4 linked regions of the Homo sapiens genome follow. The protein of the gene in region 3 purifies or fractionates together with the protein of the main gene of each other region. This does not show direct contact. Each region holds a gene or a part of one and is shown on either strand. Other genes may lie near its edges.

Evidence for each region.
Region 1: the proteins of ZMAT3 (region 3) and DCAF17 purify together in Homo sapiens (affinity purification with mass spectrometry; 3 studies listed by BioGRID and IntAct, with this or other methods). This does not show direct contact.
Region 2: the proteins of ZMAT3 (region 3) and ACTA2 purify together in Homo sapiens (affinity purification with mass spectrometry; 3 studies listed by BioGRID and IntAct, with this or other methods). This does not show direct contact.
Region 4: the proteins of ZMAT3 (region 3) and FTO purify together in Homo sapiens (affinity purification with mass spectrometry; 3 studies listed by BioGRID and IntAct, with this or other methods). This does not show direct contact.

The regions. Positions count from the first base shown.
Region 1 is NC_000002.12:171,443,332-171,452,541, forward strand, and holds part of DCAF17 (DDB1- and CUL4-associated factor 17), read left to right. Parts: intron 1-191; coding exon 192-282; intron 283-5,349; coding exon 5,350-5,486; intron 5,487-6,547; coding exon 6,548-6,626; intron 6,627-9,210. UniProt on the Homo sapiens protein: May function as a substrate receptor for CUL4-DDB1 E3 ubiquitin-protein ligase complex.
Region 2 is NC_000010.11:88,934,732-88,943,941, reverse strand, and holds the end of ACTA2 (actin, aortic smooth muscle), read left to right. Parts: intron 1-34; coding exon 35-145; intron 146-2,072; coding exon 2,073-2,157; intron 2,158-2,551; coding exon 2,552-2,713; intron 2,714-3,967; exon of another isoform or gene 3,968-4,243; coding exon 4,244-4,435; exon of another isoform or gene 4,436-4,547; intron 4,548-5,465; exon of another isoform or gene 5,466-5,699; coding exon 5,700-5,881; intron 5,882-8,368; exon of another isoform or gene 8,369-8,575; coding exon 8,576-8,719; 3' UTR 8,720-8,868; downstream 8,869-9,210. UniProt on the Homo sapiens protein: Actins are highly conserved proteins that are involved in various types of cell motility and are ubiquitously expressed in all eukaryotic cells.
Region 3 is NC_000003.12:179,015,525-179,020,821, reverse strand, and holds the end of ZMAT3 (zinc finger matrin-type protein 3), read left to right. Parts: 3' UTR 1-3,599; downstream 3,600-5,297. UniProt on the Homo sapiens protein: Acts as a bona fide target gene of p53/TP53. May play a role in the TP53-dependent growth regulatory pathway. May contribute to TP53-mediated apoptosis by regulation of TP53 expression and translocation to the nucleus and nucleolus.
Region 4 is NC_000016.10:53,699,773-53,707,155, reverse strand, and holds the start of FTO (alpha-ketoglutarate-dependent dioxygenase FTO), read right to left. Parts: upstream 3,001-7,383; 5' UTR 2,972-3,000; coding exon 2,927-2,971; intron 1-2,926. Other genes in the region: RPGRIP1L (protein fantom), read left to right, coding at 6,433-6,517.

The sequences.
Region 1 (9,210 bases), on a different chromosome or scaffold from region 3:
AACTATTTTAATCTTGTTTTTTTTTATATGAATTATGTGATCAGAAAAAAATATTAATATTTAGTTAAGAGGAAAGCAAATAAATTGTGCCTTGGTATTTCACATCTCTGAATAAAAATAGTCTCTCAAACCTGAACAAATACTGTCTTGGTTATCAAGAATAATAATCATTTATTTTTCTTTTTTCCCAGTGTTGCATCTGAGCCAAGAAAACTTTATGAAATGCCAAAATGTTCCAAATCAGAAAAAATAGAGGATGCTTTATTATGGGAATGCCCAGTGGTAAGATTTGTTTTTAGAGCGTTTGTTTCTAAAGCATTTTTAGCCTAGAAGAACCAGTTATTATTAACATATTGCATAAAATAATACAACTTAAATATCATAGTGACTCTTGCATCTTTAAAGCAATCAAGATGAGAGTATATCTTTTATTTTCCTCATGAAATAATTTCTGTATTAAAAATACTAATATTATGAATGTGTTTTTAAAATTAGATAGATTTTTTTTAGATCCTGAAAACTAAAAAGTTATAAATCGATTAAAAGTTATATAAGCAGCATAAGCTAATGTATAATTATCTTAGTGTTTAAGAGATCATTCCACTCAATATACTGAAACAGTAACAAAGTATTTAGAGCAACAGTTATTTTACGTTATTTTACGTGTTAGGAAAATAATAAAAATAAAATAATAGGATAAGCTCATTTCATAAGGCTAGCTTTGCCTGGGTGTATATTTTTCAAAACACTGTTTTCATGGAATGTTAACGGGTGTCAGAGGAGTTAGGGGGAATTGGGCTGTGAAAAACTAAGTTTGGGACATTCTGAGTTTAAGACTGTAAACATATCTATTGATAGAATTACTTCTCAGAGCCTTTACTAATAATAATAATACAATAATACTAATAGGTATGATGATTATCAAGCCATTTCCCCAAATTCTTTTGATCATAGAACTTCCTTGTTTAAGGAATATTTCTAAGTACAGGTTGAGCATCCCTAATCTGAAAATCTGAGATCCAACATGCTCCAAAATTCAAAACTTTTTGAATGCCGACATGACGCCACAAGTGGAAAATTTTACACCTGCCCTCATGTGACAGGCACAAAATTTAAAATATTATGTAAAATTATCTTCAGGCTACATGTATAAGATAGATATGAAACATAAATGAATTTTGTGTTTAGACTTGGGTCCCATCCCCAAGATACCTCATTATGCATATGCAAATATCCCCAAATCCAAAGAAATTCAAATCTGAAACACTTCTAGTCCCAAGTGTTTCAGTAGGAGAAGGGATAATCGACCTGTATTTGTTTTCTATAGGATCAGTGCTTATTCTAAGAAATGCACTTAGGAAATACTACAACAGATTAATCAGGTCTTTGAATCTGATTGGCTGTCCTTTAGGAAAAACGGAACTCATAATATGTGACCAAAAATAATTTTTAAAGGATAAGAGGCTGTACGCTAAATTTATTGTTAATTTTTTTTTCAGGCTATCATTTTTACATAAAGTTTTAGTTTTCTGGAGCTGCTGCTTTCTTTTTCTCTGAATACTTATTGTCTGTTCACTGAAGGCTCCTATTTAAAAATTAGAAAGCTTTTAAACCTATGTTTTCTTCTTCAACTCCTTATTGAAAGCTAAAAGTAACTGTTGTGCCTTTAGCAATTTAAAGCTTTTTGATCCATTTTCATTGGGGAGTATGGGGGAAGACGACAGATTTCTTAATTGAGAAAGTTTTTAATACACTAGTATAAAACACCAAAAATTTAGTAACCTAATTCCTATTCTCACTATTTTTTTTTTTTGAGACGGTCTCTCTTTGTTGCCCAGGCTGCAGTGCAGTGGCGTGATCTCCACTCACTGCAACCTCTGCCTCCCAGGCTCAAGCAATTCTCCTGCCTCAGCCTCCCAAGTAGCTGGGACTACAGGCACCCAGCACCATGCCCCACTAATTTTTGTATTTTTAGTAGACACGGGGTTTCACCATGTTGGCCAGGCTGGTCTCGAACTCTTGACCTCAAGTGATCCACCCTCCTTGGACTCCCAAAGTGCTGGGATTACAGGCATAAGCCACCATGCCCGGTCCGTATTCTCACTTATTTTTAAACATTTTATTCTCATTTCAACTGCAGCAAGATTTTCTCTTAAGAAAAACCAGGAGCATTTTGAATTGTTATTAACACACTGATATGAAACTACTTTTAAGTTAGTGTCCATCTTTTCCAAGACTCTGTGTGAATTACAGCTTTTTGTTCAAGAAAATATTTCGAACGTATTATATTTGCTGCTTCAAATTATTTTGATAGGCAAGTTATAAATAGTATATTTTTTAAAACTTAAATTTTTTTAATATATTTTTTTAAGACAGGGTCTCACTCTGTTGCCTAAGCTGGAGTCCAGTGGCACAATCACAGCTCACTGCAGCCTCTACCTCCTGGGCTCAGGTGATCCTTCCACCTTGGCCTCCTAAGTAGCTGGGACTACAGGTGTGCACCAACAAACCCAGCTAATTTTTGTATTTTTTGTAGAGGTGGGGTTTTGTCATGTTGCCTAGGCTAGTCTTGAACTCCTGGGCTCAAGTGATCTGCCCGCCTTGGCCTCCCAAAGTGCTGGGATTATAAGTGTGAGTCACCACGCTCAGCCAAAAACTTTTAAATCTTCATGAAACAACATTTAGATAAGACGTTGTAGAATAAATGCATTTATATCATTGCCCTGAATCCAGTGTAAGACTTCAAGGGTTAATAAACTTAAAAAAAAAATCTTATAGCCAGTATTTTAAGAAACTTGATTATACTTACGAAAGGAACATTGTTTGTTTTCTCTTCTTTTAAATATGGAGAGGTTTAATCCTTTACCTAACAAAGGAATTAATTTTAGCAAAATGATTCATTCCAACCCTCTTATAAGAAATATCTAGGAGAGTGGCCAGGTGCGGTGGCTCACGCCTGTAATCCCAGCACTTTGGGAGGCCGAGGCGGGCAGATCACGAGATCGGGTGTTCAAGACCAGCCTGACCAACATAGTGAAACCCCGTCTCTACTAAAAATACAAAAATTAGCCAGGTGTGGTGGCACGCACCTGTAATCCCAGATACTCGGGAGGCTGAGGCAGGAGAATCGCTTGAACCTGGGAGGCAGAGGTTGCAGTGAGCAGAGATCATGCCACTGCACTCCAGCCTGGGTGACAGAGCAAGACTCTGTCTCAAAAGAAAAAAAAAAAATCTAGGAGAGTCAACTAAGAAAAATAATGAATCTAAGTGATAAACATTCAGGAAATTCTCTAAATAAGAGATTTATTTACAGTCTTAATATCTCAGGGTTCTTTTTAGGTTTCCAGGGGAAAAGAGCAGGATAACAGTGTGGAGACTGCTAAGTTGAGAATTTAAAACAAATGAGAACATAAGATTTTTAAAATTGCATTGTGAATGTAACATTTTTTATCAATCCTTTAATCTCACTCTTTTAGACATATTGAGAAAATGTTAAATAGAAAATATTATGAAATTTTAATAAGATGTTTCAGATCTTTGAGCATGAAAAATATAACAAAAAAGCCTAATTTCAAAAAACTATTTGAGATCAAGGGACAATGGTGTGACCAATATGAAGGGTCAAGACTGAAATGTATTGTCTTTACTATCAAGAACTCTACTTTCAGTTTTTTCTCGGACAGTTAATTTCAGCTTCGTAGAGATTTCTGACCAAATTAAGGAACACTGTTTTCCTGGGTTTGTTTTGGGTATATGTCATTATAGTTATGTTATTTCTTACTGAAATTTATAATTGTGAGTTTTTTGTATTGTTTTAGTATTTAGTGGTGTATAATGTGTTATTCAATTATATGTAGTCATACAAAAAAAAAACACTAGCATACAAACAAAAATTATTTTTTTCCTTAACATTTGAAAGGCAAGACAAATTTTTAGGGAGCATATATAAAATAACTATGTCTTCATTCTTTTCTATTCACTTTTTGGCCTAAGCAGATACTAGATTAATTTCAGCCTCTCTTTACTTTCTTTCTTTCTTTTTTTCTTTTTTGAGATGGAGTCTTCTGTCGCCAGGCTGGAGTGCAGTGGCACGATCTCAGCTCACCGCAACCTCCACCTCCCGGGTTCAAGTGATTCTCCTGCCTCAGCCTCCCAAGTAGCTGGGATTATAGGCAAGCACCGCAACGCCCAGCTAATTTTTGTATTTTTTTTAGTAGAGATGGGGTTTCGCCATGTTGGCCAGGCTGGTCTCGATCTCCTGACATCGTGATCCAGCCACCTCAGCCTCCCAAAGTGCTGGGATTACAGGCGTGAGCCACCGCACCTAGCCACTTCTTTTTTTCCTTTTTATCTAGAAACAGAGTCTTGCTGTGTTGCCTAGGCTGATATCGAACTCCTGGGCTCAGGTAATCCTTCTGCCTCACTCTCTCAAAGTGCTGGGATTACAGGTGGGGACCACGATGCCCTTTTAGTCTACAAATTAAAGAAGAAAACTTTGCTTCTCTTTTTCTTCCTGCCTTAGACTTCCACCTTGTGGTGGCTCCTCAGTGACAGGAGTGCCCATGCAGCTATCCTCTCCCTTTTCTAGGATAATTCACTGGTGACATAGGTCATCTTTCAAACCAGGTCCATTTTCTGTACTTTGGCTGTCTTCATTGGTTTCTAGCTTTTCATTTGAGCTTAGGTTAGAACCACAGTGAATAATGAAGTAATTTGCATTTTGCCAGTTTTGACTTCCATCTAAAGGAAACAAGTCCTGTGGTAAAGGAAAAAGGGGGCAATATGAATGTCTATTCTAGCAGAGAACCCTTTTTTTTTGAGACGGGATCTCACTCTGTCACCCAGGCTGGAGTGCAGTGGCATAGTCATCACTCACTGCAGCCTTGACCTCCCAGTCTCAAGCGATCCTCTTGCCTCAGCCTCCTAAGTAGTTGGGACTCCAGGCACTCACCACCATGCTAATAGCAGAGGACTCTTAATCGCTATGCTATATACATGATTTTAAGAGCTGTTATTGTTGTTATTGTTATCACAGAGGTAGCATCATTGTCTTCTACTGTTATTATGACTAACATTTGTGAATACTTAATAAAATAATTAATTCATAATAATAAATTATTTCAGGCCATGTTTAAGTGCTTTATGTGAATAAACTCAATAAGTGATGATGAAATAATTACCCACAATCTTATCTTTCCTTGTCTTAATTCTCTAGTTGGGCATTTAATCTTTCTTTTGTGGTTTATTTATTTGGCATTTGAATATTTAGCTATTTTCTTTGGACATTGATTACTGCAAATTGTTCATGGCCAAGCAGTTTCATTTTTATATCTCTCTTTTTTTTTTTAGGGAGATATACTTCCCAATTCATCAGATTATAAGTCCTCACTCATAGCACTGACTGCTCATAATTGGCTACTTCGTATATCAGCAACTACGGGAAAAATCCTTGAGAAAATATATCTTGCACCTTATTGCAAATTCAGGTATTTACTGTGAATTTATTATTCAAGATTTTATTTTAAAAATTTGAAACCTGTGGCCCATGAAATTTCAAGCCTTTTTTCCCTGTCAGTTTTCTAATCCATTACCAGATCTCAATTAATAAACCTATTTTCTTTTTCTCCCCTCATGACTACATTTAGAGGTCTGAGTATAGAGACCCTCTATCATTTGTCTTTTTTTTTTCTTTTTTAAGACAAGGTCTTGCTCTGTCTCCCAGGCTGGAGTGCAGTGGCGTGATCTCTGCTTACTGCAACCTCCACCTACCAGGTTCAAGCGATTCTCCTGACTCAGCCTTCCCAGTAGCTGGGATTTTGGGTGTGCACCCCATGCCCAGCTACTTTTTGTATTTTTGGTAGAGCTGAGGTTTCCCTATGTTGGCCAGGCTGGTCTCAAACTCCTGACCTCAAGTGATCTGCCCACCTCAGCCTCCTAAAGTTCTGGGATTACAGGCGTGAGCCATCGTGCCCAGCTGTCATTTATCTTTGTATCCCTAATAAGTAACTAACCTGTAATAGTTTAAATAAACTTAAAAAAAAAAATTCCCTGTATTCTACAAATAGTATTTTCTATGTAAGATGCTCTTTATGGTAGATTTTCCTGAAGGCTAGTCTGTTTCAGTTAAATTGTCTGCTGTGTACAATCCAAGAACTGTTATTTTAACTATTAGTTTTATAAATTAGATGTAAATGGAGTGAATATGTTCATGGAATGTGTGAAAGTAACATTTTTAGTGCTTTTTATACTTCCATTTTAAAGTAGAAATGATTATTTTGTTTTCTAAGTTTTGAATACTCTTAGATCGAAAACAATTTTTATTCACCAATGCTCTAGAAAGATTAAAATTATGTATGTATTTAAATAGGGATATGTCCATATGGGGATATAGAGGAAATTTTTTTAGCTATTTATTTTTTAAAATAGATCACTTTGCTTTTATAATTTAAATAACTAAAAAATAGTTTACTTATAAAATATAATATTTTGGTTTTAAGTATAAGGAAACTGACCCAAATAAATAAACTTCTCTTCATTCTTTTAAAAGATACTTGAGCTGGGACACTCCTCAAGAAGTCATTGCAGTTAAGTCAGCTCAGAACAGAGGCTCAGCAGTGGCCCGGCAGGTATACATATTTAAACATTCAATAAAATGAAGACTCTTTTTCATAGGAATTTGTCTGCAGATTTGTTATGAAAAATCTAATGATCTTTTATTTCTGAAGCATGCTGTAAAAGATAGGATTCACGGCAACCTGGATGGGATCGGAGACCATTATTCTAAGTGAAGTAACTAAGAAATGGAAAACCAGACATTGTATTTTCTCACTCATAAGTGAGAGCTAAGCCTTGAGGATGCAAAGGCATAAGAATGATACAATTTACTCTGGAGACTCGGGTGAAAGGGTGGGAGGTGGGTGAGGGATGAAACACTACACATTGGGTATAGTGTATACCACTCAGGTGATATGTGCACCAAAATCTGAGAAATCACCACTAAAGAACTTACTCATGTGACCCAACACCACCTGTTCCTCAAAAACCTATTGAAATAAAATAATAATAAAAATATTTTAAAAAAGAAAAGTTGATAGGTAGATTTTTTTTTTCTGAAGCGTGCTATTTAAAGAGATTTTTCTCTTAAAGAATTACCCAGGATTTACTAGATTTTATAAAGTCTGGAAATTTATATCAAGAAACTTTTTGTTTCTATTGGTGACTTATGGGGAAATACTATGGAAAGCATTTATTGAGCACTTAAAAAATAGATATAGACTGCTTTTAGAGGTTTTCTGTTTCTTTATACACCGGGACACCTAGAAAAAGCAAATACTTATTTTGTGTCTCCCCTTGGCAGAGTCTGTTGTAGTTCTTTCTCATTTTTAATTTGAACTACTTCAGCTGTTTCTCACTAGTGTCCTTGATTGCAAAACAGGCAGGCACTGATCTGAGTTCTTTACCTGTATTTACTAATTTGATCTTCAGCACACTCCTTTCAGTAGATACTTTTATCATCCCATTTTACAGGTGAGGATTCTGAGCCCCAGAGAAGCTAAGTAACTTATCCAGCATCATAGTGTTGGTAACCTTGGCTCAAACTCAGGCAGTTTAGCTCTAGAGTCCCTGCTCTTATGCACTGTAGTAAGCTGCCCCTTCTTGAAATTTCTGTAATATGGACTGGCAGGTGAAGTTTATATAGAACTCTAGCATTAAAAAAAAAAAAAAGTTAAGTAGTTCCTTTAATTTTACCTTGTTTAGATAACTACATCAAGCATTTCCTTGTCAACCCTCCAGTGTATTCCCATACATGCTGGGTCTGTGAACTCTGCTTTTCATTCCTCCCTCATCTCTCTTGTCTACTTTTTCTGTATGCCCCTGAAGCCAAGCAAACTATTTGTTGGCTACTTCTACTTACTTTTTATCATGGTTATCTGAATGTTTTCCTACCCTTTACTAATCCTGCCCAGTCACATTAATAACTTAACTGCATGCCTTTTATTGGAATCTCCTTACCCTTTTCCTGATTTATTTAGTATGACATCTAAGAAAGAGAGATGCTATCTCTCTCTTAGTAATACTTCTCTCTTTATACTCTTACTACCTTGCTTTTACTTTGGTAAAGGAAAATTCAGAAAAGTGGGATAGTATAAAAAAGCAAAACATTTTGCTACTTTGAGAATTCTAAAGTGTCTTGTCTGATGTACCTTTTTAATAATTTAAATTGCTAAAGAGCAAGAATTTTTGTTTTGTTTTGTTTTGTTTTGAGACGGAGTCTCGCTTTGTTGCCAGGCTAGAGTGTCGTGGTGAGCTCTCAGCTCACTGCATCCTCTGCCTCCCAGGTTCAAGCAATTCTCCTGACTCAGCCTCCTGAGTAGCTGGGACTACAGGCGTGCACCACCAGGCCCAGCTAATTTTTGTATTTTTACTAGAGACGGGGTTTCACCATGTTGGCCAGCATGGTCTCGATCTCTTGACCTCCCAAAGTCCTGGGATTTACAGGCGTGAACCACCACTCCTGGCTAAGAATTTTTTTAAGTTTAATTCTATACGTTATCATATGTTAATGTTTTACATTTACCATCACCTGATAATGTTAATAAAATCTTGTCAGTATTTCTATATTCTGGACTGTTTTCCTACAGTCTCCAGCCAACAAGTAGTAGCTCTTAGTTGGGGTATATAAACTGTACTTTTCCTTTGGGTTTAAGGAACACAGAAGGAGTCTGATTTACCTTGAAGATATTAGTTCAATAAAAATTTATCCCTTTGGAAGGGAGAATCTTTTGGGCTTTAAGCATTACAATCTTTTTTGTTTGCTGTTTATTTGTTTTCTAACTTTTAGTTATAGCAGTTTTGATTGGTGTTTCCAGCCTTAAAAGTTCTATTGAAGCAGAGACTGGCTGTGATGGGGCAGACAGCTTTGCCTAACACAAATTTAAGAAATTCCCTTCAAAACTGTATTGGAGAAGTACAAGAGATTGTTTTACATTTCACAGTGGCAAGAAATTGGACCTTGTTCTTCAAAGTAAGGAGGCTATCCTTTTCAAGCAGAAGAGTCACTCAAGCTTTCATTGATGATATTATTTCTAATTTCCTGTAAAGGAGTCAGCACAACACTACTTTCATTATATATTTATTTATTTAGAGACAGCATGTCTGATGCCCAGGCTGGAGTGCAATGGCTTGATCAGAGTTCACTGCAGCTTCAAA
Region 2 (9,210 bases), on a different chromosome or scaffold from region 3:
CATTGTGTTTCTCCTCTGTCCCCCAACTCACTAGATCTGGCACCACTCTTTCTACAATGAGCTTCGTGTTGCCCCTGAAGAGCATCCCACCCTGCTCACGGAGGCACCCCTGAACCCCAAGGCCAACCGGGAGAAAATGACTCAAGTAAGTATGCTACCCCAGCACACAACACTGTGGGGTCTGGGGAAACTTCTGTTAGAAGGAGGCTATGCAGCACAGCAGAGAGAAGGCCGGAGCTAGGAGTCCACCAACAGACTAACAGCCTTCAGTGAACTCAGGGATCCCAAAGGACAGGAACAGCTTGAAAGTACTTGCATCCTTCCTGCAGGGACCAGCCCTTTGCCTCCAAAAGCAATAGGAAATTTAAAAGATTTCACTGAGAAGGGGCCACGTTTAAGTTATAATGTCTAAGGAGAAGTCACTTCAAAATGCAGCATCACATACAATAGGAATTTGGGTTCCAGAGTCAGACATATCTAGGTTTGAAAACTGGATCTGCCACTTATCAGTTATGTGACCTTAAAGAACTCCGTTAATTTCTCAGAGCCTCAGTTTCCTTGTCTATAAGTTGGGAGTAATATTAATACTATCATTTTTCCAAGGATTGATGTGAACATTAATGAGGTGAAATGACAGATGTGTATCATGGTTCCTAATAAACATCCAAAATATAGTACTTACTATTGTCATTATTATTACTTGTTTGAAGCTAAAGACCTCACAATAGAATCCCATCCAGCCCACCAGACAGAGCTCTGAGTTTTCTAGTTTGGAAGAGCTATTAAATAACAACGTCTAGTGTCAATTCTATACTTGTTATGGTCAAGTACTGGGCTCAGCATTTTACATTCATTGTCTCTTTAAGTTCTAGCAATGTGAAGCAGGAACTATGATTATATTGACTACATAAATGAAGAAATTGAGGCTCAGATACATTAAGTAATTCTCCCAGGGTCACACAGCTAGAACTGGCAAAGCCTGGGATTGATCCACGATCTTCCAGCATTGAAGAATCATAAATGTAAATAACTGCAAGGCCTTTTCCTCAGAAGAGCTCCTGGTGCTTGCACCAACCCACTAGCACTTGTTCTCTACAGGGGAACATCTGTGGGCCTGGGAATCACTGCACGTCGCAAGAGATGTTGCTTCTGATGAATTATTGTTCCTGTCAGTGGTGTGAAGGCAAAAAAAAAAAAATGGTTGGAAATTATGGCTTGCTAGCAAATGATGTCAGACATTCTGGTTAATAGAGTAGGAAGGGTCTTACAGATGGAGAAATGAAGACCCACGGACATCTCCTGATGCACAAACTTCTCACAAGTGACCTGGAGGGGCTTGGTTCTAATCTTGTCCCTGGACTGCACCAACTGGGGCACTGACATTCTATGTGGTCCTCTATTACCATTGGGCTGGTCCTGTCTTCCAGGAACCAGGGCCTCTCCCACTGCAACCAGAATGGCCTCAGATTCTAGGGTTAGCATTGACCCAGTAACTACATAAAAAAGTGGAATAGATTAAATAGAACCTCAGACAAATCACAGAAATGGGGCTAAACCTAGCCAGCCTGAGCTTCAGATTTAAAAGTTCTCTTTCTTTATACCAGGGAAATCAAAACCTGGATGTTGTCTTCTCTTTTTCTTCTGGCTTTGACATAGTTAACAAGCCCTAGGATGTCTGCACTGGAAAAATGGGAGATCTCATTTAGTCCAAACTCCTCCTCTGTTAAGAGACCTGGAATAAAGCCACTATTAATCAACTATTAGTTTGGTGACTATTAGTCAAAGCCAGGACCAGAGCCAGAAGCTGGACTTTCCTTTCCCCTGGCCAAACCTTGTGTGCACACTGTTTCTTCCCCTCCCCACCCTGTCAGGCCATTGATGTGATGGCTCCCCATTCACACCTTCATTTCTCCTCTTTAACGTGACCAGGGCTGTTCTGAACCTCCTTACTTTGGCCTCCTCTGCCCAGAACAGGTCAGGCCCCTCTGCATCCATCAACCAGGTGTGCTCTCCTGACCATTCTTTGTCAGATGGGCACCTTCACTAACTCAGCTCTTTGGATTGCTTTGCAGATTATGTTTGAGACTTTCAATGTCCCAGCCATGTATGTGGCTATCCAGGCGGTGCTGTCTCTCTATGCCTCTGGACGCACAACTGGTAGGTGGCTGGGCGGGACAGCAAGCTGGTTGGAGCGCACTGCCAGAGATGGGATTGAATGGTCGTTAACACGTGGGGGTGACGGACTGGAGTTGAGTTAGAATGGACACGGCTGAACCCAGCCCTAAAAGATCTTCTTCTAGTGTTCAAAATAAGCCCTTGATCTCATATTTCTAGCAGAACTTTTTTCTACTGTTTTCCTCTTCCTGTTCTTTACTTTTTTTCATCTTCCCCGAGCCCTGTCCCACCTCACCTCTCCTATCACATGCCCTGTTTTCTCTTTTTAAATAAGAGGCTCGGAAATTCCCTCTCCCCCAAGGCTTCCCTCTACTTGTCCAGCAAGTAACCACATGCCAGCTGCCATGGTGACTTATCACGCCCAATTGTCTCCCAGGCATCGTGCTGGACTCTGGAGATGGTGTCACCCACAATGTCCCCATCTATGAGGGCTATGCCTTGCCCCATGCCATCATGCGTCTGGATCTGGCTGGCCGAGATCTCACTGACTACCTCATGAAGATCCTGACTGAGCGTGGCTATTCCTTCGTTACTACTGGTGAGGCCTGTGGGAGATAAGGGGGAGAGGGGAGCAGTGTGTTGCTCAGTAACTTCCAGGACCATCCTCACTATCCAAGGAGATGATGGGATGAAGTTTTGCAAATGGCAAGGCCTGGCTCTAATGCACAGAGCAAAGCACATCTTTCTTTGCTGTGTGAAGTTGCAAAATGATTACACTATTTCCTTGAGGAGAACAGTTATAGACACCCAGTGTTATGCATTAGTCAGTGTTGTATAATTGATCTTTTTTTAATCCCCTCCATTAGCAAATAGAAGAAGATTGTGCAGAGACTGAAGATGGCATGGTGTGGTGATTGGCAGGAGACATTGTGATAGGACTCGAGTCCCAACTCTGCTACTCAGTAGCTCTGTGAGCTTGGACAAGTTAACCAACCATAGTCTCTTTATTTGTAAAATGGGGATAATAATAGACCCTATATCACATGATTGTTATCAGTATTAAATGGAAGAACGCATGTGGAATACTTGACATAGAGTAAGCATTCAATAATTGTTAGCTATTAACAGTGATACTTATTAATAGCTAACACAGTGACATATGTGTATTCAGATTCTAAGCCGGTGCACCCAGTCCTCCCTTCACAAGAGGAAAGTGTCAGCATTGCCAGAAACATTGTATGTCCTCAGTGCTGGTGGCTCCAGCTACCTGTCCTCCCCTTAGCAATTTGGTATTGTCCAAACATTTAGGTTTCTGAACATGCCTGAGGCTTATTTTATGCTCCAAATTTGAGGCTTGAGACTTGAACCCTGCCAATGTTAAAGTCTCCACTTGCAATATGAAGTTGAATAATTGCATTCCTCCTCTGCTCCCTACAAAGAATCCCAAGATGCCTCTAAAAGGTTCCTAGAGCCTCAGATATAATTAATAGCCTAGAACTTCAGAGAGCAGAAGTCTGAAAGGTCTCTCCCTGCCCACTTCTTCCGTATCTCGTTCAGTATGCACCGCTGAAACCTTCTGGACTAGGCCTGGTCCTGAGACAGCACCACCTCTTTCCTGGAGGGTGAGAAATGTGCCAAAGGTTTAACCTGCTATCCACTGGCCCAGGCAACAGGATCTCAGACTTTTTGAAAATTGTGAGGCCCCTGAGGAGCTGATTCAGCATAAGATATCCTGGTTAACTGAAAATACAATATAACAAACTTTCTGTCATAAAATAATTATAACACAGAGTAGTTATCCTGCCCACCCACCCCAAAAAATGTTATGGTACAAAAGGATCCGCTACTGTGTGCCTTTCTCTAGCTAGCTCATTTTATTCTTGTTATGCATTTCCCAGACAATGCATGCTGAGGGCCTACTATGCATGAGACACTGTCCTAGGAACAGAGGTGGTTCCCTGGTGGCCCTACTACGTCATTATCATTGTGGATTTTGGATTGCAGAATATTGAACTGACACATTTTTTGATGGCACATGTCTTGAGGGAGAGACTGCAGTAGGGCAGGTGAATCTTTGCCACCTGTGCAGACCCTAATGTTTGCCACAATGTTTGTATCTGGTTGACAGCTGAGCGTGAGATTGTCCGGGACATCAAGGAGAAACTGTGTTATGTAGCTCTGGACTTTGAAAATGAGATGGCCACTGCCGCATCCTCATCCTCCCTTGAGAAGAGTTACGAGTTGCCTGATGGGCAAGTGATCACCATCGGAAATGAACGTTTCCGCTGCCCAGAGACCCTGTTCCAGCCATCCTTCATCGGTAGGCAACAAACGCCCTTTTCCTGGGAAGGGGAGTCATTGTCTTCTTCCATATCAAGCCAGCCTCCAGAACATGGAGACAAGTGACGGTTGCCCCAAGACCAAAAGCATTTCTAAACCAGAAAAAGGGAAAGTGCCACATTTTCAAGGCGAGAAGACATAATGAGGCCAGGAAAAAGGTTTTCTTCCTAAGAAAACACTATCTATGTTGCAGTTAAGCCCAAAGCATTCATGGTGTATGATGAAAGAATTAAATAATGCCTGTGCTTTGGAGACAGCGGAAAGGGTAGCAAGGGTGTGCTGAAGGCTGAGAATTTGGGAATGCTGGGGGAGAGAAAAATAGAAGAGCACTCAAAGTGAGTCTGTTCCTACATTCACATTGTCTTGGAGAGACAGGTTTGCATAGTTGTTTACAGAGGCAGGCTCTGAGAGGGGTGAGCCTGGGTTTCAGTCTTAGTTCTCTTGATCTTGGGAAAGTCACTTAACCTCCCAACTAGTCTCCTCATGTATAAAGCGGAGACTGTAATATTACTTATGTCCTAGGATGGCTGTGAGAATTACAGGAGATAGATAAAGAGCACTTAGCCCACTGCCTGGCAAAAGCAAGCATTCAATAATTATCAGATATCACTAGTAATTAATAATCAGGTAGTGCTATTGTTAACGTTATCATTACATCACAGCACTGCAGAAGATGAAAGGGCACCTAGAGGTTTTTTGAAAACACCTGCGTCAGAAATTAACAAAAGTCCAGACCCCCACCCCCACCCAAAAAAAATGTTAGCAAGATTGGAAAAATGAGCCTTTTCCAACAGGATAAAAAATAGAGTAAGTTTCCCTGATAATCCAGCCCCATTAGCTTTGGGGGCTGGGGCAGATGCAACGTAGCTGTTAAATGGAGACCTGGGAGAGCTCTGAAGAGTTGTTGCAACATTGGCTCAGCGTGGAAGCTTTGCAGGGAATTGGAAGGCTTCATCCCTTATTTAAACCACATGGAGTGAGTAGTGAGTCTATTAAAAAATCAGTGATACCTGTTGTAGCCCACACCTCAGGATGCTGCAGCAGGCCTTCCTCATTAGAAGGCAGGCAGGAAGACATAGAGCATAACAAGACCCTTTTGTCTCTCAGACAGGTGGTTCCTAGATTATTATGTCTTCCCAGCCTCAGTCCACTGCAAGATCATCCAGATGTTCAAGTCTGGTCTTCCATGTCTAGCCTGGGTTTTACTCTCCACTTAAGGACCATGGCCTGTGTCTCTTTTCCAGGGATGGAGTCTGCTGGCATCCATGAAACCACCTACAACAGCATCATGAAGTGTGATATTGACATCAGGAAGGACCTCTATGCTAACAATGTCCTATCAGGGGGCACCACTATGTACCCTGGCATTGCCGACCGAATGCAGAAGGAGATCACGGCCCTAGCACCCAGCACCATGAAGATCAAGGTACTGTTCAGTGACAGACCCAGTGGCAATGCCGCCAGCAGTGTCAGCCCTATAACCACAGATAAGAACTCTTCAGAGACTGTATTTTGGTGACATGCAATTGTGGGTTTTAGGGGTAGGTAATGGACACAAATCTCATATTTTACAGGATGTAAGTCAATCTAGTTCATAAGAAAAATTGAGTTACTTTATATAAAATTTGATCTCTATTTATCCTTGTCTGTCAGCTACTTTCAGTAGCTGCAGTCAAAGTCAACAGAGCTCCCCACATGCTCATCTCTCTTTAAAATATGCATTTTGTTGTTTTTCTCGACACAAAAATAGTGCATCATGCATGTAACACATTTTTTAAAAATACTGATGACCTAGACTTATTTCTGAAGAACTTCAAACACTGTAGATTTAGGAGGAGCTTATACTCTTCCTCCACTACTAACCTCAATCCTGTGGCCAAGAATTCAAATTTTATCCTCATTCCTCTGTCTAGCACATCTTTTGGTACAGGTGCTCAAAAGCACAGAATGACTCTAGGATGACCAAGCTCAGTCCCTGAGCCACCCAGGACCCCTGTATGTGGTGTGAATGTTGAGCCCTAGTGAAGGGAACTCGGGGATTAAATGGAGATAATTCTTTGGAGGCAAACTTAACCTGTGGCTGGGTCACTTCTCAAAGGTTATTATCACTCTCTGAAGTCAGAAGGCCACACTTGGGACCCTCTGACCCATGTCACAGGAAGTAGAGGGGCAATTCTAGTGCAGTTCACACACGTGGGTATTTAAACAAATTATCTCCTCTTTGCACTCCCTTCTGTTTTTAGAAGGAGTATGCAGCTAACACTAGAGAGTGTGCTAGACTGAAACATGCACACTTTCTCTCTCCATGATAGGCTCTGGCTAGTCCTGCCCTAAAAGACTTCAGCATGAGAGAAGAGAGACTGTTTTCCAACAGCGTTTGTGTTTCTTGGATGCCATTCTGATCAGCTCTTACCCCCCTTACTTCCACACAAGAGGGAGGTGAATGAAGCCAGTAGCTGGGCTCACTACTGAGTTGATCTCATGAGGGTCGATAACAGAAAGAGGCTATTGCTAGAGTTGGGCAGTTCCTAGTTCTCTAAACTTGGTTTCTTGAATAGAAATTAATGTGAAACTCTGGGCCCCGATGTAATGAGATAGTATAGAGAACCAAGAAAAACCTAGGACAATAAGATGATAACATTTGGCAAAAATGAAACTGGATGAGAGACCTATGGGAACTCCCATAGAATTTGTCATAGGCTGTTCTTGCGTTGCTATAAAGAAATACCTAAGACTTGGGTAATTTGTAAAGAAAAGAGGTTTAACTGGCTCACAGTTCAGCAGGCTGTACAGGAAGCATAGCTCTAGCATCAGCTTCTGGGGAGGCCTCAGTCTCAGAAAGCTTCGAATCATGGTGGAAGGCGAAGCAGGGGCAGACACCTCACATGGCAAAAGCAGGGGCAACAGAGAGGGCAGGGGTGGGGGGAGGGTGCCACACACTTTGAAATAACCAGATTTCATGTGAACTCGGAAGAAGAGCTCACTTATCACCAAGGAGATGTCCTAAGCCATTCATGAGAGATCCACCCACGTGATCCAAACACCTCCTACCAGGCCCCACCTCCAACACGGGGGATTACATCTCAACATGAGATTTGGAGGAGATATCCAAACTATACTAAATTCTTTACAACTTTTCTGAAAATCTAAAATTGTTCCAAAATAAAAAGGTTATTTTTAAAACCAAACCAAAACATAAAACCACCTGGGAGAACCCAGGTTTGAATATCAGATCTGACACTGATATAACCGGTGTTACCTGGGCCAGTTACTTAAACTTTCTCAGCCTCTGTTTCCTCATATGTAATATGGGAGTAATTTAAGACTTATTCTTCAAGATGTTTATGAGAATCAAATGAGATAATACATGTAAAATGCTTAGCATAGTGCCTGGCATATAATTACATGCTCAGTAAATATCAGTACTTTGTATTAAGAAGTAAATGCTCAGAAGATAAAGATTAAACTGGTTAGCCAGTTTTCACTGTTCTCTGTGCCTAAACCATTCATTTATTTAAGAAACATGAGCATGCCTTGCAGGTTAGGCCTGTGCACTGGGAAAGGCCAACCAGTGCAGCTTAAGAGGCACCTATTGCAAGGGAATGTCCCCAGCAGGGGACCCTGAGTTCCCCAATGTTAAACAGAGCATCTGGGTGAAAAGTGGTAGTTCACTTCACCACGTGGAAACACATTTGTATACTAAGTCCTAGCACAATTAAAACTTCTCCTTTGAATAGGCTAGGGTTTGTTTCTACAGAAAGTGTATCGTGTTGAATTCTGAGGCAGAGTTCATGGAAATCAGAGGCATTGCCAGGGTTCTTAAGTGGGGGCCATGGCTGGATTTGGAGCCAACTTTCAGTTTGCTCAATAATGTGGTCGAAGAGTTACAGGTGAGAAAAACGAATGTGCTTACTGAAGAATTTCTAAATCCATGGCTCCCTCTGGCGGTCCTGCCAAGAACATGACACAATTAGGACACAATTGGCATCTAACAGACAAGCCTGTGTCCCTGCTGAACAAGAAACTAGGCCATGGTAGAACATCCAGGCTCTGTCCTACCGCACTAACGACTGCACTAATGATGACATTAATGACCATTCTTTTTCATCTTGACTGACAGATCATTGCCCCTCCGGAGCGCAAATACTCTGTCTGGATCGGTGGCTCCATCCTGGCCTCTCTGTCCACCTTCCAGCAGATGTGGATCAGCAAACAGGAATACGATGAAGCCGGGCCTTCCATTGTCCACCGCAAATGCTTCTAAAACACTTTCCTGCTCCTCTCTGTCTCTAGCACACAACTGTGAATGTCCTGTGGAATTATGCCTTCAGTTCTTTTCCAAATCATTCCTAGCCAAAGCTCTGACTCGTTACCTATGTGTTTTTTAATAAATCTGAAATAGGCTACTGGTAACTTCTTGCGTTGGCCTCCGATCAATACTCGACTGATACCATTTGTTAGGTTGACCTCACCCGTTACAGGATGGCTCCCTCTAGTGGTCCAGCTGAGCACATGGCAATTAGGATGGATATGTTTCTCAGGCAAAGGGTAGAATCACATTACCTGAAGTGGGGAGCTGCACTTCGGTTCTGTAAAGAGGAATAATTTGAGAATACATTGGAGATTTTAAAAAATAACATGGATTAAAGTGTATCAATGGGATAATCTACAGTACCTCACAACTTGCAAAGTGATTATATTACTTTACACTCATAACCCCAGTACTGGTAACCTGATGGGTGAAAAGAAAATAAT
Region 3 (5,297 bases):
AGCAACAACAGTTTGAGGTCCAGTGACCTACGTAAAATGAGTGTCGTTTGTGTCAGGGGACACATGTAACTGTGCAACATGGTATTTTCTACAGGGAGGGCTAGGAAGGGTGGTTTTGGAACCTAACCTACTTTGTGTCTTCATTGTCAGAACTAAGGTTGGAAATGCCCTTTAAAGAACTTGGTGAGGCATATGCTAGGACAATAGAGCTGCTTTAGAAAGAAATTGAGACATGTTTTGTCAGGACAGATAAAAGTTTAATGCAGGCTTTTGAACAGATGTTTTAAAACAAATTTGACCTTACCAACTATTTTTTTCTTCTAGCCAAATCATTGTACAGGAGTTTCATATATGATAAAAAGTGTTTTGTTATTGTTTTTGCTTTCTTGGCAGGGGAGAACCCCTACCATTGTGAGCAGTTACTGTCACTCTGGCTGAATGGACAAATAGCTGTGTAAATAGCTTCTCATAAAACGCTTCTACTGATAGCTGTTTGACTTTTTCTTCCCGTTATGAATGGGAGGAACATTTGTAAACTTCCTTTCTGGGTAGCTACCAAAAAACGTACTGGCTTATGGTCCCATGTGACCTTGTCTCCGTTAAGCCCAGAATCTGAGTGCCTTTAGCAAGTGTTAGCATTTCACAGAGAGAAGAGAGACAGAATTATTGCTATTAATCACCATTCATAAATAGGAGCTTGGAATAACAAAGGTCTGTGTGAATTCTGTTCTACGTCTTTTTTTTCCCTTTTTTAAATAAATGTCAATTTGATATCAAGTAAAACTATTGTCATTATTGATCAGAAACCATACATTCTGAAAATGAATCCAGTTTTCCCAAGCTGGCAGAAGTCAGAGATCATTTTTCACCTTGATCTGTGTTGCGTTTGTACTTAGTGAATGGCAGTGTGGTTGATTGGAAGAGCTTGACACTGATGTTTGGAAAAATTCTTTATTCTAGTGGTCATTTTCAAACTTGTCTTCTGTAGAGAGGGGAAAAATTATGTATTTGCAGCTAAAGCGAAGAGACTGGCACAATAATTATTAATTGTGTTAGTTCATTTCTATATTAAATGAAGCATCTTCACAAATCAGGTTTGAAGCCATTAAAAGCAAAATTTTCCCTAGTTTAATTAATTTAAAATTCTAAATTGCCTGACTACTTAGAATCTTAGAAACGCCCTGCTAGACTGATTTTATTATAGAAATGTTAACATGTTCCTCAACATTTTCTCAAGAAAATTTTCAGACATATATCAAAGTTGAAAAAACTTTGCAGTATAACCACTGCTAGATTCTGCCATCAACATTTGACTATACTTGTATTGCCATGTATCTGTTCATATTCTCTATCCCTCTTTTCATCCATCGATCCATCAGATTTTTTTTTTAAAGAACATTCCAAAGTAAATTTTAGGCAATACACTGCCCTAAATTCTTAGCATGGGTGTCATTAATTAAGGTTTAGTATTCGTTTAAATATCTATTTTGAAAGTGGTGTATGAAGTTGATAATCTGAGCCAATTAACATACTTTTTTTTTTTTCCTCCTGTGGACTTTTGTCTTCCAGTTTCTCTTTTTGTGTGTACTTAGGGTGAGGGAGGACAATTCCTTTCAAACACAAGTTTATTTTAGAATTGGTCATTTTTAAGTGCTTGTCATAAATTTTAAAGTTTCAATATAATTTTTCTTTTCCCCACTTCTGATAATGTATTTTTGCCAAACTATGCAGCTTCTTCAAAAAACTGTAAATTACTGATTGGGGTTTATGAAATCAGCGAATACCTCATTTCAATCTGTTGCTGCTTTTCTCCCTCTTGTCACTTCTCCTTTCACTACTTTCAGCTGCTCTACCAGAAGGTAGAGGGGAGTAAAGGGTCAAACCCCTATATAATTAGCTGTTTTAAACAACTCTAGGAGAGCAGATTAAGTAGCTTAGTAAGTTGAAACTATTAATTTTTCTAAAGAATTTGATTTGAATTCCTTGAGAATTGTAATTATCCACACTTCCTCCAGCTATAATTAGCAGAATTAAAAATGATTGTACTGTACAATGAGTTGTTGAAATTGTAAGCCTTAGTAACCATCTTTAGCTTTATTGTAGTCATGTTTAGAAAAAATTATTTTTACATATGCCTTTATTTTTATGCCCACTTTTTGTGGATAAGATTCTTTAGATAAAATCTAAAGAATTTTAAGTGACTTTCTCCAGGTCATGAAGATTCAATGGGTAGAATTGAATCAGAATTGAAATGTTCCAGATTCATATTCTTGTGTGTGTTTGATAAAATTCATGGCTTCCAAAGTAACTGAACACTTCCTTTGGGCCCTTGGAGGGAAAATCCATATTTTTACTAATTACACTTTTTTTTTTAGACATCTGGCAGTTCTTTGAACTTAAACATATTCTCATGGCCATAGTTCCAAATTAAGCCCGACGCAGTTGCTAAAAATCTTGCTGCACTGTTGAATACTAATAATGCAACATTTATTGGATGTTTTTGCATTTTGATGACCTTCATGATTCATTTATAAGTCTTTGTAAGTGCTTAAGTGACCCCCTCACTAGTGAAAATAATAAATGTTCTATATCATTTATTATTATTTGTGTATTCTCTACATGATATATTTTTTTAAGGAAGAGTAACTCCACATGTCAGAATGAGTGATATTATCCTAGGGCAAAGCGCAAATAGGGCAGTTTGTTTCTACTCTGCAAATATGGCATGTATAGGAACAAAACTCTTTTGGAGTGGCTGGTCATTGTTCTGCCCTCTTTTGGTACCTGAGTACCTTTCTGGGGTTTTGTAAATCGTGTGTCATTTGTAAGAATTTCACGTTAACTCTGCGTTACTTGGTGTTCACCTGTGGTATCCTTGACTGACCATAATGATTTAGTTTGGGTATGATGTGTCTGCTTTGAAATGCCTTACTGGAGTATGTCAGATCCTGCTTTAAAGCATTCCATATATCTGCTGGGACAATAAGTTGCTTCTCCTTGGAAATATGCTCTAGATTCAGAAGCAAAACCGATTTTGCTTTCACCATTAAGGTTGCATTTTAATGCAGTTATTGTTTTAAATTAGAGAATAAAATGTAAAACCAAGGGAGGCTTTAGAACCCTTTATTGAATGGCATGGCAAACTTTTAAAACTGCTTTTGCTATTTCACTAGAACTATCTTTGATAAAGGATATAGCTAAAAAATGTCAGCCCAAACTGTGTGTAATTAGGGTTGTTTATTAAAATTTTCTCTAAATGTCATACAGAGGCTTAAGATCTGTGTATGCTGTTGGGTCGGAGTGCCAGTCACTGCTTTGGAAGTCTGTGTTCTGGGGCTGCAGAATGACAAACGTGTCATGGGATTAAAACCAATCAACTGTGAATTGTGAAATTGAAACTACTCTTTCGGTTTTATTTTCTTTAGCATATTGAGTATAGAAATCTGAAACTTATTTAAAATTTATACTGCTTTTGTTGATGGCTCATTTTGGCTGTGTATCCTCACTTATGTACTGATTTCTGATAAAGGCTTGACATTATTATAACACGCATTTTGTGTTCCAGTTTAATAAAACGGTTTCTGAGTCTTGTCTGAAAATTGTTTGGTTATGAGTTGAAGATCAAGGGAAGAAGGTAAATTGTCATCACTGAGACGTTATTTTGATGCCGATTCTCGATGACTGTGGGTTCTCCATTCATCAGTCTGCACACAGTCTGCCATGGTCTTCTGGAAATCATGCAAGTACTGTAAGCTTTTAGGTTGGCAGTAGAATCAACCTAGCTGCCCACACTGCCCGTTCTCCCCATCACTGGAGTTAGCCTGGGACTGGAGTGAGTTCTCAATTTTGTTGGTAGATTTTAATATTTATTTTCCCTTCAAATTTTAAGAAAGTTGGCCTTAGTACCATAAACACTGCTGGAAATAAACACATTATTAAAAAGCATATACCCATTAATCTTTTGGGGGTGTTTTACATGTAAAATACTCTTACAAATATAATCAATTTATATATGCAATATAATTGAGATGTGGTCCTTTAAACAGCCTGGTTTTCTGTATACAGTGTACTTTTGAATTTAAATGCTCACTTAAAAAAGTAGATTATAGGCTGTAAGATGCTGTTATGCTTTAATTAATCAGGATGCAAGACACATACCCTTACTGTTGTGGGAAAAATTCTTCGGTCTGCACACACAAAAAATGTTTCTGAATGAAGTGAATAGATCACACTGAATTTGTGTGTTGTAAAGTACTCAAGGCATCAGCACATTTTATTAAATCATCTCCAGGAGATTCTTAGCTTTAAAAAAGCCATGATAATATGCACCAAAAAAGTCTTAAATGATTTCAGATTTTCAGCCTTTTTAAAGGCATTTCTGAGGCTCATTCATTGGCTGAAAATCTATTCAAGATCAAATGCTGGGTGTTATCCTTTATAATTTCTTAAAGGGCTGGTGATAAAGTTTCCCAATGTATGATAAATTGATATAAGATTATAAAGATCAGAAATAGATCTTTTTATGTGAGTTTTAAGATTTTTATCATCTGAGTTGAGGCTTAAACCACAACAATTCTTAGTTGTGGGATCTTCATAACTTGAAAATTAAGAATTACAAAAAGATGAAGACAGTTAACTATTGTGTAACGTGAATATTATTTTAAAGGGATCTGATTATGAGTTCTTACCAAAAAAAATCCCCTAAAAATACATTTCATGGTTTTTAATCTTCAAGTCTGTGTGTGTATGTGTGTATATATATTTAGGGGGAATGTATACTAGGAGGGAGTTTATGGAAACATGTTTAAGATGATCATATGCTAGTAATGAAGTGTGTCCAAAGGAACAGATGTAAATTTGCCACTGGAAGAAATACACTCCACCATAGGCAGTCTATAACTTATGCTTGGCATTTTGGATAAATCTTTAAGTATGTAATTAGAGCTTCAAATGTGTTTTGGCTGGAAGTTGTCCCTCTAGACAGGAACAAGATGCCTTTCATATTAGCTTCAATTTTTCATCTTTGCTGATGCCAGAGGCACCTCTCTAACCCTGTTTTCTAGAAATCCTTACTAGGTTATGGACTTTGACCAACGGTATCTAGTGCCACCTTGTGGACTGTCTAGATTTTACAGTTAGCAGTTTGTGGTTGGTGAACTAACTTTAAAGCAGGATGTTTGGTTGAAAACCACCTTGTGGAGGATATGAGTTTTTATCTGTAAATAAAACAAGTCATGCCTTTAAGAGATACTGAGGACTGTTTTTGCAGCTTAAGTCTGTAAAGGATGACAGAGTGG
Region 4 (7,383 bases), on a different chromosome or scaffold from region 3:
GCCTCATCTCCAGAACTGTAAGATAATAAATTTCTGTTGTTTTAAGCCACCAAGTTTGTGGTAACTTGTTGCAGCAGCCATAAGAAACTAAAACAAATGGTCAAATCACTTCGGAAAACTGGTAATTTCTTCATAAGGTTAAACAAAGAACTCCCCTATAACTAAGCAATTCTACTCCTGGGCATTACCCGACAGAAATAAAAATGTAAAGACTCTTAGGTGAATGGTCATAGCAGCTTTTTTTGACAGAAATGAAAATGGAAAGACTCATACATGAATGGTAAAAACAGCTTTTTTCATAAGAGTCCAAAACCAGAAACAATCCTAATGTCCAGCAACAAGTGAATGAATAAACAACATGTGGTATCTCCATACAGTGGGCCACTAATTTGCGATAAAAAGGAACAAATTATGGATACATACAACAACATGGATTAATCTCAAAAACCATTATGCTGGCCAGGCACAGTGGCTCACGCCTATAATCCCAGTACTTTGGGTAGCAGAGGCAGGAGGACGGCTTCAGCCCAGGAGTTCCAGACCAACTTGGGCAACACAGCAAGACACCATCTCTATTTTGAAAAAAAAATCATTACGCTGAATGAAAAAAAGACCCAAAAGTATACACTGTATGCTTCCATTTATATGAAATCTAGAAAATACAGATGCATCTACAGAGACAAAAAACATATCAGTGGTTGTTTGGGGGCCAAGGTGGAGGGACAGACTAACCACAAATTAACGAGAGGGAACTTAGGAGAGAAATGTTCGCTATGCCAACTGTGGTGGTTTTGCAGGTATATACATTTGTCAAAAGGCATCAAATTGTACACAAAAATGGTTGCAAATGACTGTATGTAAATTATACCTCAATAAAATTGATTAGAAAAAGAGAAGATAATTCATGAGCCATTGGACACTTTACATTTAAGATTTAAAACAACTACTTATACTTTGTTCTAACAAATAATATTAAGCAAACAAATTTTAAATGAACAGCCAATTTTTTAAAGAAAAAAGGAAGACAATTTGCTCTACTAATTCAACATGTTTCACAAGCAGAAAATGGGAAAAGCCTTGAATTTGGAGTCAGAAGACCTGGCTCAGAGCACTAGTTTCACCTAGCAACCAAGTGGCCTTGGGCAAGTCACGATTTACCTACAAGTCTCAGTTTCTAAATCTCTAAAATATGGATGACACTAGTAACTCCCTCACAGGCAATGGTTATGGTTTCAATAGAGTAAGAGCTTCTTTGGTGCAGTGATTCTATTTCAGCCAAAATTATAATCCCAACTTATGGCAAATAATAGGTGCTCAACAAATCTTCACAGAATAAATGAAATACTTTAAAAATAAACCTGAAAGATGAGAAAGACATCATGCACAACACCATGAGGTGACATTTGTTTCTTTGCACTGTGTAGACTAAAGCAGAAGGGTCGCCCTCTTTGTGCTTATCTTTAATATATTATCCACATCATATGCAGACTCAAGCATGAAAACTTCTGGTCCCTTACGAAATACTGCAATAACTCAGGTCAATATAGAGCAGATTTTATATTTTAAATCCTTAGGTGTATTGCCCTAAACAGACTCACGTGTAAGATGAAATTCTATGAAAGCAAGAACTGTGTCTACGTTATTTAACACTGTTATTCACTGCCAATATTTGCCTAACATAGAGTAGGCAGCAAATGACATGTGCAAAGGCCCTGAAGCCCGATAAAGTATAGTGAAGAGTGACTTTTAAGAAGGCCAAAGTGACTGGTAGGCAGAGAGCAGAGTGTCATATCCAATGGGGTTGTGAAAGCAGGTAGGGTCCAGATCATGCAGGATCTTGTAGGCAATGTGAAGTTTTGCCTTTATCCTAAGAGCAACAGAAAGCCATGGAATATTTTTAAACAGGTGGTTGGCAGAGTAAGGAGAAAGGAAAGGGACATAATTATATTTGCATTTCACGAAGATCTTACTCTATGGTGTGCAGAAGAGAATGGTAGTTGAGGGAAGGGAGAGAAGGTGGAAGAAGAGTTAAGTTAGGGTGTAGAGTGAGTGTAGGCCAATCAATAGGCTATTCCAACAGTCTATTAAAAAGATAATGGTAGCTTGGTCCAAGGTAGTGGAGATGAAAAAAAAAAAAAGTGGGCATATTCCCAATATACGTAGACAAATCAACAGGATCTGAGTTTGGGAATGAGAGAAAGGAAAACACTCAATGCTTCTGAGCCTCAGTTCTTCATCTGTGAAGCTGGGCTGTTATTTATACTCCATCTGTATAATATCTATCTTGCAATCTGCTGTGACAATGATATGAAATAATTTAAATATTATGCACTTAATACAGTGCCTGACCCACAATAAATGCTTTTTAAAATCTCTGTTGCCATTATTATGGTCATCCCATGGAATGGCAACTACCAGAAGCTGAACATCAAAGGTAGAGAGGAGCAATGTAGTTAAAGATTCATATCCACAGCGCTAAAAGACACAAACTGTTATCAGCCGGTCACGGAGACAATTGTTCCAAAGAAACACAGCTGACTGCACAGATATTTCATCTAAGCCGATCTCAGTCCTCAGAGACCATTATGAGAAAGCACAGCTGGTATGATCACAGTCATCTGAGAATCCGGTAAACTGAGGCACAGGGATGGCGACAAATTTAACCAAGGAATAGATGCAGAAGAAGGACAAGGAAATGGGTATCTTGCTTCTCATTTTTGAGCCGATCCAACAAGACTCGGCCTGCATCCTGAAGAGCACGAATTTGTAACATCCCCTCTAATATCTCCAGGTCCCTTGCTGACAAGGCCCTGTCATCCCTTAGTTTAACACCGCGCATCCGCTCGCCATCAAACCAAGCCCTTCCGGTTCCCTGATCCTTGCTCACAGCGCACGAAGATCTCCAGGCCCCGGGAGCCCGACATACCTTAGCTTCGCGCTCTCGTTCCTCGGCAGTCGGGGTGCGCTTCATGCTGCCACTAAAGCCGCCTTCGCCACCGCAAGCTGCGTAGATCCCTCGCCCTGGACCCCGCCTCCTGCATGTAGTTCTCTCAGCGTCCTGCTCCCGTCTGGAGCTATTCTCCCTCTGAGTAGAAAAAACTACAACTCCCAGGATGCACCGCGGCGACACCCGCGAGCGCCACGGGATTTAGCACAGGAGAATTTCCCAGGTCCGACAGCTGGAAGAGCGTAGTCCGCTACCCCGCGAGCAAACAGGCTAGAGTCCAAGGAGAACTACATTTCCCAGGAGGCTACGGGAGCCTGCCATGTTTCTCCCGTGCTCCTCTCGGCCAGCCGCCCGCCACGCTGTCGGCGCTATAGCAACGGTAGCTAGCTGCAGGGCCAGTGGCACGGTGAGTACCCGGGAGGATGGGGGAGGATGAGGGTGGGTGGAGGTTGCTGACCCTCCCCACTGCAGCGCGGGCCGGGGTCCTAGGGTCCGCTCTGCCGCCTGGAGAAGGCCCTGGAGTTGGCCCTGGAGTTCTGCTGGCGTGAAAGCAGCCCAGCCCAAGACACCTCCACATCCTCAGGCCTGAATCACAGGCCGCCCTTTATCCCCACGTCCAGGACCAATTTGAAATGTTATATCCCAGCCATGAAGGTGAGAGTTGATGCTGCTAATTGCCATCTCTATCCAGATCCTGCAAGTTGTAGGTCCCTAACACAGTTTGCTCATTTGCCCTGGATTAGGAGTTGGTTGGTAGACCCTAAACCTCCTGAGTGGTCTATTGTTTGCTTAATTATATATTATTTGTTTATCATGTGATTACCTCCATAACTTGCTAGCTTCATAAAGGCGGGGGTTTTGCTTGCCATTTTAATCTCAGTACCTGATATTCATTTATTCATTCAATAAATATTTTTTCTTTATTCTTTTTTTTGTGTGTGTGACAGGTTCTTGCTCCGTTGCCCAGGCTGGAGTGCAGTGGTAAGACCTCAGCTTACTGCAAACTCCTCCTCCCAGGTTCAAGCGATTCTTCTGCCTCAGCCTCCCGAGTAGCTGGGATTACAGGCGTGTGCCACCACACCCAGCTAATTTTTGTATTTTTAGTAGAGACAGGGTTTCATCATGTTGGCCAGGCTGGTCTCGAACTCCTGGCCTGAAGTCAGCCGCCCGTCTCGGCCTCGCAAAGTGCTGGGATTACAGGTGTGAGCCACCACGCACAGCCAATCATTCAATAAATATTAATGTTGGTTCCCACCCTGTACCAGGCACTGTTCCTGAACAGTTGTGAACAAGACTAATACCCGTCTCAAGATGTTTATCCTTTTTTAGTGGAGACAAACAATAATTTTATCTGATAACTTCAGATAGAGGCAGTTGCTATAAGAGATACAAGCCATGCTTGGTGGCACGCACATGTAGTTCCAGCTACTCGGGAGGCTGAGGTGGGAGGATCACTTGAACCCATGAATTCAAGGCCAGCCCGGGCAACATAGCAAGACCCTGTCTCAAAAAAAAAAAAAAGAAAAGAAAAGAAATAAACAGTGAAGAAATGTAAGGAAGACTACTCTAACATAGGATGGTCAGGGAAAACCTGTCTGAGGAAGTGAACTGAGCTCCAAAGATTAAGGAACCAGCTAATACAAAGGCCTTGAGCAAGACAAGGGTATGGGGGGTTCGAGGAAAGTAAAGAATAATGTAAGTGAAGCATAGTGAGCAAAGAAGGATAACATAAGATGGTGTTGGAGAGGCATTGCAGCATTGTGCAGGGTTTTTCAGCTTCTACACTATTATTAACATTTTGGGCTGGATAATTCATTATTATGTCTCCTAAGCACTGTAAGATATTTAGCATCATCCATGGCCTCTACTCACTAGATGCCAGTAGCATCCCGCTTCCTTGTTGTGACAACCAAAAATATCACCAGACACAACTATTAATACTTTCAACTACCACCTTAAGTGAGTTAACTAATCTGTGTCTCAGCTTCCTCATTTGTAAAGCAGGAATCATTTGAGTAACAGCCTCACAAGGATATGGTGAGACACTTCATTCCTATAACAGAACACTTAGAACAGTACCTGGCACATAGTAAGCGTTCAATGAATGTTAACACCATCATCATCATCATCATCATTATTATTTTTAAAGTGACCTTAACTCTGTCATGGAAAACTAATCATTTTCATACACGGGCCTATGTGTCAACAGGATCCTAAAAATTGACCTTTTCTATAGGAGTACTTCCAAAAGAAGTAGATGATCTCCCAAGGATTTGTCTGTTAGCTGTTTCTGTAAAAGCAAAATGCAATGGTTCTCCACCATTTGCGAGTTGTAATAAAAGTTATGAACCCTCTTTAAAAGATATTGCATATATACATATACATACAAAATTTGGTAAACCATCTCTGGGTTCACAGACCCTGAAACCCCATGGACTCCATTCACTCACTCAACAACTATTTAATGAATGCCTGCTCTCAGAATGCACCACGCTCTATGCTAGCCTCCAAGAATACAGAGCTGAACAAGACAATGAAGCTTGCTACTGTCTTGGTCTTTACATTCTAGAACCAATATCCTAGAGCTTAAGAACTCTGCCCTTTAGAGTATCTTCATTCACAGTTTGCATGTAGCTTACTAGGTAGATTGAAATGAAAATATAAAATCCTTTATTTTTGCATACTAGATATTGTGTGGACCACTCACATCCATACTCAAAATAGAGTTACTATGGTGTATTTCTGTAAAGAATAGAAACTACAAAAATACTAGAATTAGCTAGAGAGCCTATATGTTGAAGTAGTTGAACCCTGGGTGAGACCTAGGCCTCATGGCAACAAAGGCAAGACACACACACAAAAAAACACAAACCCAGTTGGTAAATTTATGCAACGAAACCTCTTTCACAAAACTCACAAAATGCACAGAACTGCCCACTCATTTGTACATCAAGCAGACAATATTTGAGTAATATTGACATCCCAGGCACATGTGATCAGTGCTTTTAATTTACTCATCCCATTTACCCTTAGAATAACTCTCTGAGATAGGTATTATTTTCTCCATTTTTAAAACTGAGAGACTGAAACTCAGAGAGTTTAGGTGGCTTGACTAGTTTGTTAATGATAGAGCAACCATTTGAATCAAGTTCCTGACCTGAGTTTTTTCCAAGATATCTGCTTTCTTTTGGAGGCTGGGGAGAGGAAAGGGATGGAGAGGAGGTATTTCTTAAATGATAATCTTACTTCATTTCCTAAGCAAACTATAGGAAATACACTGTTGAAAGGAACACTGTCTCCATGACTGAATGTAGTAGTACTATTAGAATAGAAGCTTTCATCTTCTCCAAGCAGCACATGTGGACAATAAGATGCCCATTAAAGTTCTAGTCCCTTTTTCGTTTTATTTGGTTCATTCCATTGCATAGTTAATGTAATAATTTGGAAAGAGTTTATTTGAATTTTCTTTTTTCCACAGCTAGGCCATGTCTGGTCCAACTGATGAGACTGCAGGAGACTTGCCTGTGAAAGATACAGGTCTAAACCTCTTTGGAATGGGAGGGTTACAAGGTATGGCCAGCTGTTATTTATTACAGTTATGAACTTTGATCACTGACTACTTTTAATTTAAAGTATTTCTTATACTCATACAAACCAAACCATTTAAGTAACTATATAGTCCTTGATTGGACTAAACAAAAAGATGGAGAGTTTAGAACACATATGGTATTTTACTACATGCATCAGTTATCAACAGCTCATAGAAAATGTACAGTCCCCCCTCTGTTCTGATAAAGAATTAACATAAATCATCTTTTTAAAATTCCTCACATCAGTAGAAACTACATAGAGAGTATCAAGCCTCCAAACTGAATTGCCTGGTTTAAATTACATTCAGTGTTAAAACATTTCTTTGTGTTTAAATTTTATATGGGAGGAAAGGCCGTATTTTAAGTGTTTTGCCTTTTAAGTGGAATATCTCACATGATAGTGACTTTTTTATCGAATTAATATGGATTAAAGGTTTTCTTTATCCTTTTATCACTTAGTAGTTGCTGTAGAGCTAAAAAGCACTTTCAAATTGAGAAAGAAAAGCACTACTTTAAAGAACAATTTAGAACAGAGAGCTGTGTTTATCTTTGTGTGTCCATTGTGTCAGCTATGCTGTCATGCATGTATCGATTATCAACAGCTCATAGAAAACGTAAAATCCCCCTCTAGCCTGAGAAGGCTAGGGATTTAAGATACATTCCATTTAGGAATCTACATACACTTTTCAATCAGAACAGTGTAAATGGCCACTGTGAAAACCAGAAAAGTGGTCAATGTATTGTTTATTGAAAAAGATAAAATTTGGCTACACAGAAATTTTTTTTTTTTTTTTTTTTTTTGAGACGAAGTCTCGCTCTGTCGCCCAGGCTGGAGTGCAGTGGCGC